Linked DNA regions of Homo sapiens: all the other regions are linked to region 1. Evidence: fine-mapped expression QTL. A gene starts in region 1. Each other region holds a variant in brackets. All regions are shown on one strand. Distances are from middle to middle.

Region 1 (5,424 bases):
ACTGGCTTGCCTAAAGTCACATAGCTGGTGAGTGGCATAGCAGGGACCAGAACCAGTGCTATTTCATTACTGATGCAGATATGTTATGTGTGAAGCTAACAACATATTGCCTGTTTATCCCTCTAACTTCAGTTGTTGGTAACAAAACATCAATAGTTCATGTTCTAAAAGAATATGAATAGTTGACTTCTTATTCCACCAAGAATATGGACTTCTTAGTCCATAAAGACTAAGAATAGCGGACTTCATGTGTAAATAGTCTCTCTTTATAGGCACTACCATTCAGTTAGTTTTGTTCAATTATAACAACAGAACCAGCAGGAGTTCTTCAAGGTAGCATAGTGCAGTAAGAAAGGTGTAGAGCCAGGGCAAGTAAATTTTTCTCTCTGTGCCTCACTACTGTCATCTTTAAAATAGGAATAATAATGCTATCTACCTCAAAGGGTTGTTAGGAGGATTAATTACTATTTATAAAGATCCTAAAACATCTACCATTAAGTGCAACAAAATTTGTTTTATTGAAAAAATATAACAAGTATTTGGTACTTAAGTTTACAAATTAGTTTCATCTTTGATCAACGCATCTATCCAGTAATTAGAGCTGGCGTTATTCACAAAAAGCAAGCTAAGAAGCAAATATTTTTGGTGGCAATTTGCCTAATGCCTGGCTAAGCACATGGCAGAACCTGGTACTTAAACCCAGAATGTGCACCTCCAAATCGCACAGCTTTCTGCTTTGTCATGCTGACTGGGGTAGTGCTTTGATCACCTGTTTGGTCATTGATAAGTATCAGTGGGTACAACACCTGTGTCTACCCACACACTGGAAGATAAAACGATTGATTCTCCTATTAGTGACACTGTTGCAGTATAAGCGGGCTTGTCAGCAATTACTAGCAAGTAGGAGAGAAAATAATGTGAAGAGGTAAGAAGTCTGGGAATGAGGATGAGTAAACATTGAAATAACTAGCTCAATTATATTTACAGATATGCTTCTTGCCATATTGCTCAATAGGATAAAGATTATTTTGAGTTTCCAGTGTGAGAGATTTTTCCATAGTTGAATTTGCATGCTATGCCTTCAATTAGATTATAAAACCCTCAGAGGCCGTTTGAAAAACTGCTGCACCACTAAATCGACTTCTTCCAAAGTGAAGGCTCCTCCATCCAAGCTTTCTTATCATTGGGCTCAAGGTTGAAAGCCAGTAAAAAGTTTTCTTATTGAAGACTGAAACCACCCACCACCGTCCCTGGTTAATCATAAAAGAAGCGTTATTCTAAAAAACTCCAGTTCTCGCTGAGACAGCTGTTGACCCAATTTGTATACAAATGTGACACTCTGAACCTCTCTGGTTTAGTATTTGATAGCCCAACAGGGTGACTATATTCAATAAAGATTCAGGCTGGGTGCAGTGGCTCCTGCCTGTAATCCCAGCACTTTGAGGGGCCAAGGCGGGAGAATCAGTTGAGCCCGGGAGACTGAGACCAGCCTGGGCAACACAGTGAGACACCGTTTCTAGAAAAAATAGAAAAAAGCCAGATGCGCGCCTGTAGTCCTAGCTACCCAGGAGGCTGAGGTGGGAGGATTGCTTGAGCTCAGGGGTTGGAGGCTGCAGTGAACCCTGATCCTACCACTGCACTCTAGCCTGGGAGACAGAATGATACCCTCTCTCAAAAAAAAAAAAAAAAAAAAAAACAAACTGTACATTTAAAAATAACTAAGAGTAACTGGATTATGGTTGAATGCTTGTGGTGATGAGTATCTCATTTACCCTGATGTAATTATTACACATTTATACCTCTATCAAAATAGCTCATATACCCCATAAACATACACACCTACTATGGACCCACAAAAATTAAAAATAAAAAAGAAAAGCCTCTTTGGTCCACTCAGTCCACCACCCGTATTAGAATGTAAGAGTTTTTTTCCTTGGGAAAAGTGTCCGACAGAACCAAGGCTCGGTAAAGGATACTAATAATGTAATAATATAATATTAACAAACATCTACTGAGCTTTAAATACGTGGCAGGCACTGTGCTGTGCACTTTATGTGCATTATCCAAATTAACTCTCAGTAATTCCAGGAGTTCTTATCACCGGGGTCTGTGGAAGAGGAAATGGTGGTTTACGGCAATTTCCGAATGTCGCACAGTAGAAAGTGGACCAGCAACCAGGGTTGCAGATCCCAAAGTCCGGGATCTTCACCATTTCACCCAACCGCCTTAGAGACCTCCCAGCAAAAGGTCTAAGCACGAATGCTCCAGAAAACAGGTCCAGGTCACGCGTGCCTTCTCCCTTTCCCTCTGGGCTCGACAGTGGTGCACAGAGCGACTAGGGAGTGGGGGCCGCGGTTATTTCATTAGAAAAGCTCTGGAGCCCCGGGAGCCCTTCGTCCCAGGCGCACTTGCCCTGCAAGCCCTTCTGGAAGGCGGCAGCGTCCAGGCGGTCCAGCGCATCGAGCCGCGCCAGGCGCACCGAGATGCCCCCGAATCTGTCCAGCTCGCCCTGCAGATCGCACGCTCCAACTGGCGGATTCCGCACGTAACCCTGTGCGCCCGAGGCCCAGCGGTAACCCGCCGAAGGCCCGGGGCCGTAGGTTCGGGCAAGCATCGCGCGCCAGCGGCCCCAGCTCAGTGGCTGCCGCATCTCCACGCCGCTTAATTCGTCCGTTGCCCAAATGACCCCTCCGCGCTCCAGAGCGGAGATCGCGGCCGTACATTTTAGAAGAGTGCCATCAATACCCTCAGAGTTGAGCTGGGGTTACCACTCTGCAGAGCTATGCCAAGGAGACCGCGAAGTGGTCCACCAGCCCTTCTCAGCAATTTGCCCCGCTCCAGTTAAGCGGGGAAAACCTCCTCCCCCACCGCCACTCACTTATTTTGTTTGGTAGTTTAATTCAACAGACGTTGGTTTAGGGATGGGGAAGCCGGGAGGAGATGCAAAAACGTCCTGTTTTTCAGGAATTTACAATCTAAGTGGCAGTTCCGTTCCTGGAACCTATCTTCTTTCACAGATGCCGTTACAGCTGTTTCAAAGACTGCTGGTTTTGAAAACGCTCAGTCCCTCCCACCACGCTGTGCACTGCTGCGCTCCACTCAGGGGATTACGGCGCAGGGGCGGACCCTCGCTGACTTCTGCCCCGGAAGTTTTTCTCTCAGTTGAAGCGCGCACATTGAGTCGGCTTTTCTACTGCTTCGGCTAGGGTACCTTGTGACCATGTCTTCCAAGAAGAATAGAAAGCGGTTGAACCAAAGCGCGGAAAATGGTTCGTCCTTGCCCTCTGCTGCTTCCTCTTGTGCGGAGGCACGGGCTCCTTCTGCTGGATCAGACTTCGCGGCAACCTCCGGGACTCTGACGGTGACCAACTTATTAGAAAAGGGTAAAGAATTCCGGGTGGGAGACTAGAGGCCGAGGGGGCGCAACCTGAGGGGCGGGAGACTCAGTGATACTGACTTGGGGTGCAGAGACTTTTGAAAGTTGGGCGTGGCATGGGTCTGAGAGCGGCACAGAAGCGTGTAAGACTTCTGTATGTAAGAAGCATGCAAACGTAGCCGCGCCTGCACTGGAGAAGTTAGGCTGAAATGGTTTATCCGTGTCCAAGGTTTCTCTTTTGTAAATTATTTTGAATTTTTAAGTTGCACTTGAAACGCTTTGTCTCATTTAACATTAACGACACATTTAATTGCAAAATTGTTCATAACTAGCGAACATGGGATACTTATCCTAAAAAACTAAATAACCAATTCAGTAAAAATGTGGATCACTCTGCCTTTAGGAGTGATGATAGCATTTTCTTCCAGTACTACGCAGGTTATGATATTTAATAACTGCTAGTAACTGCACACTAGTGTTAGCAGTATATATAGCTCATCTAATTTCTACAGAAGCCGTGACCGATGGGTATAGTAATGACAGTTTTATAGAGGGAGGAAAGTTAACGTGATTCCATTCAGGCTACACAGGTGCTAAGTGGCAGAGCCGATATTTGAGTCCAGATGTGTTTGACTTAAAAGCCATTCCTAGATGACAGCTCCTTTGATTTGGGAGAACGTATTTATACTGAAAAGTCTTATAAATTGAATTAAAAATTGAAAATTTATATTTGATGTGTAATAGCTTTGAAAAATGGACCAGACTAGTGGCAAAAACTTTTATGTCTAATCAGACCTTAAAGACAATTTAGAGTTCACATGGTATTTTCACTCTGCCTTAGGTATCAGAGGACAACTTGTTCTGTCCTGAAGGTTCAACTTGTTTTTGAACTAGATCCTTCCCATTGACATGTAAACATGCTCATTTCTCTTCCATCTTAAATCAGAACAAAAGCTCCACATTTTCTTCCTGCAACCGTCTCTCTATCCATTGCCAAGCTTCTTAAATGGAGTGGTCTCTGCCGCCTCACCACTTACATACTCTCCCTAGCCTATTCCTCTTTGACTTCCACCCCATCATTCCATGGAAACTGTTCCTGGTGTGGTCTCCGAGCATCTCCGTGTTGATAAACCTTACGTGACCACAGCAACTTTTGGTATTGTTGACCATTCCCTCCTTCTCGAAACACTTAACTTCTTATGTGTTGTCAAACTTGCCTGGTTTTCTTCATCTTTGTTGATGTTTCATCATTTTTCTTTGCAGGCTCGTCCTCTTCCCTTGACCATTAAATGTTGAAGTTCGTCAATTCTTAGTCCAAAACCTTTTTTTTCCTCTCAATAAATCCTGTCTCCTTGGCAAGTTCATCCAGTGCCCAGAGTTTCCCATCTATAGTCTCTTCAGTGTCAGATTTATATTTGTAAATCTTTTGTTTTTGCGCCTTGATGTGGTTGCCTTTTAGCCAAATGCTTCTCAAGCTCTCTGTGGTGAAGACTTTAAAATTTATAATAGGTCACAGATCAGCACTTTTCTAAAATACAGTAAAAATGATTTTCTAGAAAAATAAGGAAAAATTTTTATTAAACAGATGTGAAATTACTCTGTAAATTTCAATAAAAGCTTCTATATACTTATTCTCCTGTTTTGTACTTGTCATGAAGCAGTAACAAATCGTTGTGGGTCATATTTTGAATAGCACTGTACAATAACTCTTCTCATGAGTGTCCCAAAGATACTTCAGGACTAACTTCATGAGCCCGTTATTTCCTCCAACAAAATAAACTTCAACTCTGTTCAGTTTTTCCCGCTGCAAAATTCAGAAACCTAAGAGTCATCCATGACTCTCCCCCCCATATCTCACATACCTAGTCCACCACTAAATCATGTTTATTACCTAAATATTTTACATATTCCTCTTCTGCATGCCATTCCCACTGTTTCTACCTTAATTTCAGACACCATCATCTCTCACCTGGACTGCTACAACAGCCTTTTGACTGATTTTCCAGCTTCCAATTTTGCCCCTTATTCCTTTTCCATTCTGCAGCCAG
Region 2 (5,424 bases), 57 kb after region 1:
TACCAAAAGGGCAGGGGCAAAAGCATGTTTTAATTTTAATATTTTACTCTTTTAAAAGAAGTTCCCCAAACAAATTATTTTGATAAATCTTTTTGGCTTTTTTTATGGATGTTGTTTTGTAAATTCTATTTTATATTTGTAAATAATGCTTTCTCATATTAAGTATTTGTCATATTTTCATTGCCAAAACTAAGTGCTTGGATTTTTACATTTATTCTTCACATTCTTCCACCTCTCTTCCAACCTCTCATCCCCTCCCCTACAAGGACAAAATGTTTTAAATGCTGTAATCTTGCATGGGGTTTGGGTTTTTTAATATTTTTATTGGTGATAATTCTGTCACAGGATCCTTAGGGTGTCACTTTTCCAGCCAGAAACCTCTGTGGCCGGTGGCACCTCTGCCCGAGTTATATCCTCGGGCCCACTGGGCTTGTTCTGCCCACTTGGTCCAGCAGGCTGTACTTGGCTTGTGCTATTGACCTGGATCCTACACCTGCCAAGGGTGAGCCAGGCGCAGAGCAGTGAAGGGGGTGTGAGTGAGCCCGAGGTCCGGCCACTGCACACAGCCAGGCATGCTGGCTGCAGTGGAGTGGACAGCCCCAGGTGCAGGCACAGGCACCGGCTCTGTGTGAGGATGTGGCTGGACCAGGCATACCACAAGTGTTTTCCACCGTGGGCACCAGGTAACGTGGTGGTACCTGGAAGCTTGGAGATGTTGGAAACAGCAGAGCCCCAAAGAGAGTGTCACAGCTCTGGTATCACAGCTCTGATCACAGCCCTTGCATCTGGGCTCCCCAGAGGGCCACAGCTCCTCTTCTTCTCATTGCCCAAAATGTGGTGACCAGTGGGCGTGTTTCAGTCCTGTTTGTGTTACAGCTCTTTCAGTCCTGCCATTTGGAAGGTCCTGAGTTCTTGTGCAGCCTTTAGGAAGAATGAGGTATGTGGACAGCTGGAGGGTGAGCAAGGCAGAGAGGAGCTTCATTGAGCAAGAGAACAGCTCTCAGGAGACCTGAAGTGGGTAGGTCCTTCTGCCATCAGGTCGTCCTGATGAGCGTCCAGCTCTCAGCAGAGAGGATACCTGGAGGGGGTAGCTGCTGTCCACAGGCAGGCCATCCTCACAAATGTCTAGCTTTCCGCAGAGAGGACACCTGGAGTGGGTAGCTCCTTTCTGCAGGTAGGTCATCCTGATGAGTGTCCTGCTGTCAGTGGAGAGGAGACCCAGAGTGGGTAGCTTCTTTCTGTAGGCAGGTTGTCCCAGTGCATGTCCAGCTCTCAGTGGAGAGGAGACCAGAATGGGTAGCTCCTATCTGGCATCCCAGCTAGTGTCCAGTTCTCAGCGGAGAGGAGACCCAGAGTGAGTAGCTCCTGTCCTCAAGCTGGTCAGCCTGATGAGTGTCCAGCTCTCAGCAGAGAGGAGACCTGGAGTGGGTGGCTCCTTTCTGCAGGCAGGTTGCCCCAACGAGTGTCTACTTCTCAGCGGAGAGGAGACCCGGAGTGGGTAGCTCCTTTCCATAGGCAGGGTGTCCCAGTGAATGTCCTGCTCTTAGTGGTGAGGAGACCCAGGGTGGGTAGCTCCTTCTCACAGCTGGTAGTCCTGACATCCCAGTGAGTCTGGCTGAGTCGGGTTTTTATGGGCTTCAGAAGGGAGGAAGTGCATGCTGATTGGTCCATGGGTGGCCATGGGCAGGCCCAGAAAAAGCACCATAAGTTCTTGGTCTCAGCTGCAGACTCTACCCAGCTCTGACAGCCTGCCCTCCATGCTTCAGGCTGTCCCTGGCTTAAAGGTGGGGCTTCACCAGGGACTCACTCCTTTCTGCCCAGGAGCCTCTCTGCCTCCTGCTGCCATCAATCATGTCGTCCATGGTGCTGGGGCTGTTCATGCTGAGGGGCGCTTGCAGGACTGCGCCAAGCCACCCTCAGCCTCCCTCACATACTCATTGGCACCCAAAGTCTGGAGGGGACCAAGGTGGAAGGGAGCTGGACTGTCAGTGCCACCTTGAGCACATGAACACCTAGGTGGGTCATGACAGTGGCTTGGCTCAGCCTTAACTTTGGTCTGAAATCAGAGCAGGCAAAAAGTTTTTCTGGGACTGGGGAGAGGCCAGGCAGTAGAAGCAGGCACTTCGGAGCCTGTTGGGGCAGGGGGTGCTTCCTGGGTTCTCGAGAGTGGAGGGATACCTGGGTCCACAGCCATGGCTGGGCAGCTGCAGCTGTGCCTGGGTGAGTGGGGCTCACACCCCACCAACTTGGAAAAGAGCAGGGCTCCTGCCTGTTCCCAGCTCCCACTGGCTTCGTGGAGTATGCAGCCCTGGCCACGCCTCCCCCACTGCAGCCAGTGTCTTCACTGTTGCCACTCCAGATGGGCCACCGGAGCCATCAATTCAGTCTGTATTTATGAAGGAAAAGACAAATCTTGTGTTACTTTCCTCTCTTTATAGGTCTCTGTGCCTTGCGGAGAATCCTGAAAAAACAGCCTAACCTCCCTGATGTCAAGGTGGCTGGACTGGT[G/T]AAGATTACTCTGAAGGATTTCTTGCAGGCAATGAATGATATCAGACCCAGTGCCATGAGGGAAATAGCAATTGATGTCCCAAATGTAAGTCATTTATGTCCCACACTAGCTACACTGTTTGAATTAAACTCTGAAAAAAATTTAGAGTTCAGGGAGACTGACTTCCTAGGCTAAACTTTAAAAAAATATTTTTCTTAATTGAAAGTTTTATTGAGATAGCTGTAAATTCAGTGCAGTTATACGAAGTAATGTAGGGAGATTCTGTGTATCCTATACCCAGTTTCCTCCAGTGGCAACATTTTGCAAAACTGAAGTACAGGCTGGGTGCAGTGGCTCATGGCTGCAATCCCAGCACTTTGGGAGGCTGAGGTGGGCGGATCACTTGAGCCCAGGAGTTTGAGACCAGCCTGGTTAACATGGTAAAACCCCATCTCTACAAAAAGTACAAATTAGTTGAGTGTGGTGGTGTACACCTGTAGTCCCAGCTACAGCTGAGGTGGGAGGATCATCTGAGCCCTGGGGAATGTTGAGGCTGCAGTGAGCCATGGTTATGCCACTGCACTTCAGCCTGGGTGACAGAGCGAGACCCTGTCTCAAAAACAAAAAACAAAACACCCAAAAAACTATATTACAATACTAAAACCAGGATACCCCTATTGATACAATCCATTGATCTTACTCATATTTTTTCAGTTTTACTTGTGTGTATGTGTTTATTTAGTTTTATACAATTTTATCTCATGAAAAGGTTTGCATATTCATCACAGATACTAAGTAATTCCATCACCACAAAGATCCCTCATGTTGTCTTTTATAATCACACCCACCTCATTCCTCCCCTCATTTCTAAATTTTTATTTCAGAACCTTTATATAAATGGAATCATACTGTATACAACCTTTTGGAATTAGCTTTTTTCACATATGAGTAAGATCTTTTGTCTTTCTGTGTACCTTAACTTATTTCAGTAGGCATAATGTTCCCCAGATTCATCCATGTTATTATAAATGACAGTATTTTCTTCTTTTTATAAGGCCAAATAATATTCCATTATGCCACATTTCTTTGTACCATTATACCACATTTTCTTTCTCTGTTCATCTGTTGAGGGACACTTAGATTGATTCCCTATCTTGGATGTTGTGAATAGTGCTGTAGTGAACATGAGAGTGCAGATATCGCTTTGAGATACTTCATTTCCTTTTGATATGTACCCAGTAGTAGGATTGCTGAATCTTTTGGTAACTTAATATTTTGAGGAACCACCATACCATTTTTCCATAATGTCTGTACCACTTTACATTCCCACCAACAGTGTACAAGGGTTTCTTTTTCTCCATATCCTTGGCAACACTTATCTTTCATCTTTTTGGTAATGGCCTTCCTAACAGATGTGAGGTGATATCTCATTATAGTTTTGATTTGTATTACCCTGATGATTAGTGGTATTGAACATATTTTCATATACCAGTTAGCCATTTGTACGTCTTCTTTTAACAAATGTTACTCAGATCCTTTGCCCATTTTTAATCAGATTGTTTGTTTTTTTTTGCTTTTGAGTTGTTTGAGTTTCTTAATATATATTTTAGTATTTTGGATAGCAGCCCCTTACCTCATATATGGTTCACACATATTTTCTCCCATTCCATAGGTTGTCTCTTTACTCTGTTTCCTTTGCTGTGCAGAACTTTCTGGTTTGATGCAGTCCTGTTTGTCAGTTTTTGTTTTTCTTGCCTCTGCTTTTGGAGTGTATCCAAAAATTCATTGCCCTGGACCCATGCCATAAGGCTTTTCCTTATGTTTTCTTCTAGTAGTTTTACAGTTCTAGATATTATGTTTAAATATTTAATCCATTTTGAACTGATTTTTTGTATGTGGTGTGAGAAGACTGGCCAGTTTCATGTGTGGACATACAGTTTATCATATGGATATCATGTGGATATACAGTTTTCCTGACACCATTTTTTAAAGAGATTGTGCTTTCGTCATTGCGTGTTCTTCGGTACCTTTGCAGATCAATTGACTGTACATGCGTGGATTTATTTCTGGGCTCTCTATTGTTTCATTTATTTATATGTCTGTTTTTATGCCAGTATATTGCTGTCTTGATTATCATAGCTTTGTAGTATATTTTGAAATCAGATAGTGTGATGCCTACAGCTTTTTTTTTTTTTTTTGCTTGAGATTACTTTGACTATATGGTGACTTTTATGTTTCCTTATGAATTTTAGGGTTGCTTTTCATATTTTAGAGAAAAATGCCATTGGAATTTTGGTAGTGGTTACATTAAATCTGTAGACAATTTTGGGTAGTATGAATATTTTAATAGTGTTAATTTTTAAAATTCATGAACATTAGACATTATTCTATGTATTTGTGTCTTCTATTTCATCAGTATTTTATAGTTTTCAGTGTACAGGTCTTTCACCGTCTTGGTTAAGTTTTTTCGGTATATTTAAAAAATACTATTGTAAATGGGATTTTCTTTTTTTAATTTTTTGGATAGTTGTTAGAGTATAGAAATGCTACTGACTTTTGTTGTCGATTTTGTATCCTGCCAATTTACTGAATTCATTTATTGGTTTTAATCTTTTTTTTTTGGTGGAATATTTAGGGTTTCCTTTATATAAGATTATGTCATCTGCAAACAGACAATTTTTTTCTTCTTTTTCAATTCGGATGCTTTTTATTTCTTTTTCTTGCCTAATTTCCCTGGCTATGACTTTCAGTACTATATTAAATAGAAGTTGCGAGAGTGAGCATTTTGTCTTGCTCTTCATCTTAGAGGAAAAGTTTTTAGCTTTTCATTGTTGGGTATGATGTTAGCCGTGAGCTTGTCATACATATAGCGTTATGATGTTGAGATACATTCTGTCTAATGTATTGAGAGTTTTTATCATGAAAGGATGTTGAAT
Region 3 (5,424 bases), 68 kb before region 1:
GATTTCTTAGCTAGAATGTGTTGAACAGCTATTATTAAAAGTAGAGAAAATGCAAAAGTGCAATCATGTGGCTTTTCTTCCTGGCCCTAACCCTAGCCTCAGCCCTTTCTTTCTTTCTTCTCATTTCTCTGGTGAGCTCATTCTCACAGTTTCATCTTTCACATATGTGCAGGTAACAGGTAGACTTGGGTTTATGTCTCAGCTGTGCCTTACTAATTCTATGCTCTTGGGTAAGTTAATTTATTTAAATATTAGTTTCCTCATCTATTATATAGGGATACTAGCTGATAATAGCTACTATGTTGGTATTGTTGTGATGATTAACATGATAATATAGGCAGTGTGTTTAGGATAGTACTGTCAAATAATAAGTAACCATTTTACTGTTATTTATTATTCCTAAATCTCTCAAAGCTTATATCTTATCTGTCCTCCACTGCTTCAGTTGTCTATTGCTGTGTAACAAACATCTCAAAGCTGTGTGGTCTAAAATAGTGATTTTATATTTTATGATTCTGTGGGTTGGCCTGGGTGCAACTGCATAGTTCCCCTGGTATAATTTAGAATGTGTCATGCAGCTGCAGTCAAGTGGTCACGGGGACAAGAATATCTGAAATGGCTTTACTTACATGTCCAATACCTTAGCAGGGATAACTGGAATCCTAATGATATCTTTCTCCAGGTGCTGTCTCTCTCAGGTTAGCTTGGGCTTTTTCAGTGGCTGGATCTCAAGAGGAAAGGGTTCCAAGAGAGCAAGCTCCATTGTGTAAGCCGCTGTTTGCATCCTGTTTGCTAATATCAAAATTGCCAATGTCACATCAGTCAACATGTCTAGGACTAGATTCAGTTTGGGAAGAGCTACAGAAGATATAAATATCAGGTGGTGTGGTACATTGGAGCCACCAAAATAAGTCTGCCATCAGATAAACAATTAATTCCTCGCTTTTATGAGCATGGAATTGGTGCTAGATCATAAACTGACTATCCTCATTTTACCAACTTTCCCTTAATTGTTTTCTGTGTCAGTTTTTCATATTTCCAAGTTGAAACCCCCTAAACACAACATTTTTTTCCACTGCTCATTTTTTACCAAAATTCAAACTTCATGAAACCCTGGCATTTCATCCTTTGCCTTCCATCCTCATGGCCACCATCAAAGTCCACATCTTTATTATCTTACATGTGAACAGCTGTAATAACCTTTCCAGTTATTAATTCTTTAAACACCACTTTTAGCCTGATGCATTTCTTTTCAAGAACCTACGGTATGTTTATAGTCCAGATTGCATTAAACCTAACCTTTCTGTTATAGGGCCCTTTTCTGAGGCCTTATTTATCTTGCTCTGCACCATTTATATAACTATTTTCTGGCTGAGCACAGTGGCTCATTCATGTAATCCCAGTACTTTAGGAGGCAGAAGCAGGTGGATTGCTTGAGCTCAGGTGTTGGAGACCAGCCTGGGCAACATGGCAAAATGCCATCTCTACCAAAAATACAAAAATTAGCCAGGTGTGGTGGTGGGTGCCTGTGGTCCCAGCTACTTGGGAGGCTGAGGCAGGAGGATTGCTGGAGCCAGGGAAGTTGAGGCTGCAGTGAGCCATGATCATGCTACTGCACTCCAGCCTGCATGACAGAGTGAGATCCTGTCTCAAAAATAAAATAAAGTGAAATAAAAATAAAAACTATTTTTTACTATTGTATGCCCTCCACCCTCCAGAATCAGAGTGTGATGAGGCAAGTTATTTAATAAGAGAGTTTTAAGTTCATGTATATTATAAATATCTTAACACACAGAGGGGAACAGAGGAGACAATGCTGAGGTAGAGTAAAAACCCTGAAGACAAGATGTAAGGAGGAAGGGATTTTGTTGTTGCTATTTGTACTTTTGAGAATTAGGAAGGAGGGAAAAGGGGAATCAGGAAATATTTCAGGGAGTTAGAAATTAGATCCCCTTCACGGAATTCCCCAATATTTAAACATCTTGAACTGTCTTTTGTTCACCACACTACTCCTGCTGCACTTGGGTTACGCATCCATACCCACGTGGTCTGTTTTTGTAGTTGTTACTGGAATGGTGCGAGGGTGTATATACTAATGCTGTGCTTGATACTCAATGAGTGCTTCATAAATGCTTGCTGGATGAAGAATATAAGCAAAACTTACCTAATTCCTTATCTTTTATAAACTAAAATGGACAATATTGATAGGAGTTAAATGAAAGAATGAACGTTCTTATATATTAAATGGAGAGAGATGCAGAATGCAGTTTTGTTAATTATCTTCACTATTAAAAATAGACATTTGTAAAGCATCAGTATATGTGCTGTATTTGCTGCGTCTAGAGAGGAGCTGGGATGGATGAAGGCTTAGCTGGTTATACTGCACAATGAGAGTACCTGTTTCTTCTGTAGATAGAGCATAGAAGATATACTAGGAACATGGGGAAAAGCCATTATATATTTTCTTTTTTAGATCTGCAAGCCTTTTGGATGTGAGAAGATTTTTTAAAAGGACATTAAAAAATAGCTTCTTTTTCACATAAGGATACAATATTTTAAAGTAGTAAACATAGAAAGGCATTCGCCTACAGAATTCTAATGAGCATATTCGTTATTCACTGATACTCTTTTGATGGCTGTGCATTTCCTTTCCAAAAACACAATATTTTTGTGAAACCAGTGGTAGTATTCGACCCTGGCAATCAAGATTGTGTAAGGAAATGGTAAACATTTTTTGGAGAAGAGTCTCCCGCACCTCACAGGCTTTTAACAACAATTTCAAATAGCATATT[T/G]TAAAGAACTCAGCTCTGGAGTCTGCCTAATTATTAACTTCTACTTAGAGGCAGCTGCATTCTTGAGGGTGGAGCCATGATCTTCTTTTACTGTGATCCTGTTTTATTCCTTTAAATACTCAGCACAGCTGAAGAAGAGGTCCTGTTTTCTTACTGAAGACTTTCAGGCAAAGGAGCCGTTTCCAACTTCCTACTAAGTCCACCCAGCATATGTCATGCAGGGGATGCGGGGAAGAATTTTCCTTGCAAGGGCCTTCTCAGAAGTTTTGGAGATGGGCCTTGAGCTCTTGGCTGGAAGCGTGGTTTTCCAAAGTGGAGGCTGCAGTAATGCTCGTCATTGATTGAGAGACGTGCTGCCGGGGCTATTTTCATGGGAGTCAAATAAAACTCTCTTGTCTTAAGCCTGCTTTGAAAGGTGTTTTCCTAATGATTTTACAGTCAAATAGAATGACTGTGTGGGAGAGTGTATTAAATAACTGGAACACTCTGGGCAGCTTCCCTTCCCCACCCTGTGCCCCTACTTGCCTTTCCCCCAAAGCTCCTCCTCCTCCGGGCACACACATGCCGCTCTGTTTTCTGTTCTGGAGCTGCCTGAATTGTGTGATTTTTGTGGATGAATGTGAACTCTTTAATCCAGAAAGAGGTGCCAGGAACACAAACAGCCCGGCTAATTGGCATTCACCCCTAGGGAAAGTAACATGGCCAACAAGCTGGTTGCATTATCTCCATGAGGCACTTACTTAATTAACTTTGAGGAGAAACCTCAAGCTCTCTCAAATCACCCAAGAAGCATTTCGAAAAGGAAGAATTTGCCAAGAAAAGGCTATATTCAGGAGGTGTTCCATCTCTTGAGTATGTTGGATTAGTTGCAGAAATACTTACTTAAGGCAGCTTATATTTTTGTTTAATCTCTTTCTGAGCTGCTTATGATTTCAGCGTACTGAGAGGAATTTTCAAGAATTGATTTATATTGAAGAACTCACATTTCAAAATATCAGCAGTTTTGTTGAAGTATTTCTCAGTTGTTTTTGTGAAAGTATTGCCAACCCTGACTGAAGGTCTGACTTCCAACAACTTGTTCCATATGAAGATACTGACTTCCTCAAAGGCCTGTCTGCTGCTGCCTCCTCAGACAACAGAGCAGGTTGTCTAAACCATGGCACTTCCACCTCCAGCTTTGGAAGGCCTCTGCTAGAAGACATTTTCTCATAAGTAGTGCAGATGGTGCCCTAGGAGCTGATGAGCTTCCTGTTTATTCAGTAAGCGTTGCAGGAAATACAAAGAAATGTCAGGTGACCAAATGTTCTGGGGTCACCAGAGAAGTTCTTAACATTCCCTTACTAATGGAAATGAGAAAAATCTGTAGATTTTCAGCTATCTGAGGAACAATTTTTGTCTTTAAATAATCCTCTCCCCTCTTCTAATTACTAAAAGTGCAACCAACAGGTAGCAAAAGTGATATTTGAGCTTCATCCTTCTTTTCTTCTGTCCCCGTACCCTCACCTTCTAGTGAAATTACTCAGAGACTATGAAGAATAGGGATTGGAAGAAATTGAGAGCTCATGGTGGCAGGATAGCCCACAGACCATATGTGTCTCTGAATAAGGGAGAATTTGATAAGTAGAATAAGCCATCAGAAAAAAAAATTTTCAAATAGTGATTCCTCTTCAAAACATTTTACATATTTTCTCTAATATAATTATTAGAATAAAATCATTGAAATTTAGTATTAATTGAAACCTCTCATCAGATTTTTATATTGTGTTACATTGTGTTATATTGTGTTCAAGACACAATATTCATTTGGCTTTAAGAGACTGCACTAGAATGTAAAATCCACAAGAGCAGAGACAGTGTCTGGTTCCTTTCAGTGCTTTATCCCTTGTACCTGAATGGGACCTAGTTCAGGTACTCAGTCAACAATGAATTGTAAAATGAAAAAATCTAAATACAGTGGAGGCTATTTGGTCTGCGGGCTCTTCTGCCCTTGGGTTCTCAATTTCTTCCATTTTCTGTTCTAACATGGAAATGGAAGTTACACTAAAAGTAATATTTAAAGGAATCTTATTTATATTGCTTAGCTTCTTTCTCTCAAGTAATTTCTAGATCTTAAAGCACAGATTTAAAATATTAATTATTAAGCTAGAAGTAGAGACTTTGAACTAGTTGGCTGGTATTTTCTAAATTAAATTTTAAAATTTTGAGATAATTATAGATTCATTCACATGCAGTTGTAAAAAGATAATACAGGCAGATTCCTTGTACTCTTTACCCAATTTTCCCCCATTGTAACATCTTGTGAAACAGTAGTACAGTATCATAACCCAGATATTGACATTGATTCATTCAAGATACAGAGCATTTCCATCATCACGGTGATTCCTCAGGTTGCCCTTTTATAGGTGCACTCACTCCCTCAGCCCCACCTTGGGAAACTACCCATCTGTTCTCCATTTCTATAATTTTGTGGGCAACTTATTTTTAGAAACATTTCTCCAACAGCTGGCCCCTGAGAAGAAAAGACCATTTAACACATATAGGGTTGATGCGTTTTGTAGGTGGAAGCCAGGTATTTATAGATGCATGTCGTCAGTGTTGCCTGGTGTTGCTGTGCCAGGAGTCAGTGTGGGGT

What was found.
Region 2: its variant is fine-mapped to the expression of AFG2A in whole blood (INTERVAL, PIP above 0.99).
Region 3: its variant is fine-mapped to the expression of AFG2A in whole blood (TOPMed, PIP above 0.99).

Annotation. Positions count from the first base shown.
Region 1 is chr4:122,919,923-122,925,346 of GRCh38, forward strand. AFG2A (AAA ATPase AFG2A) reads left to right here and starts at 3,156. Exons shown (of 16, transcript NM_145207.3): 1 at 3,156-3,383. The coding sequence starts at 3,221. NUDT6 (nudix hydrolase 6) reads right to left here and starts at 2,675. Exons shown (of 5, transcript NM_007083.5): 1 at 2,413-2,675. The coding sequence starts at 2,650. RefSeq lists enhancers at 2,819-3,355, 3,148-3,517.
Region 2 is chr4:122,976,794-122,982,217 of GRCh38, forward strand. It overlaps AFG2A (AAA ATPase AFG2A), which reads left to right. Exons shown (of 16, transcript NM_145207.3): 10 at 2,439-2,593. Among named protein-coding and RNA genes, the nearest start is that of AFG2A, 56 kb to the left of the region's middle. The variant G/T (reference allele first, on the strand shown) is at 2,509.
Region 3 is chr4:122,851,647-122,857,070 of GRCh38, forward strand. The region is part of intron 1 of FGF2 (fibroblast growth factor 2); the gene reads left to right. Among named protein-coding and RNA genes, the nearest start is that of FGF2, 28 kb to the left of the region's middle. The variant T/G (reference allele first, on the strand shown) is at 2,793.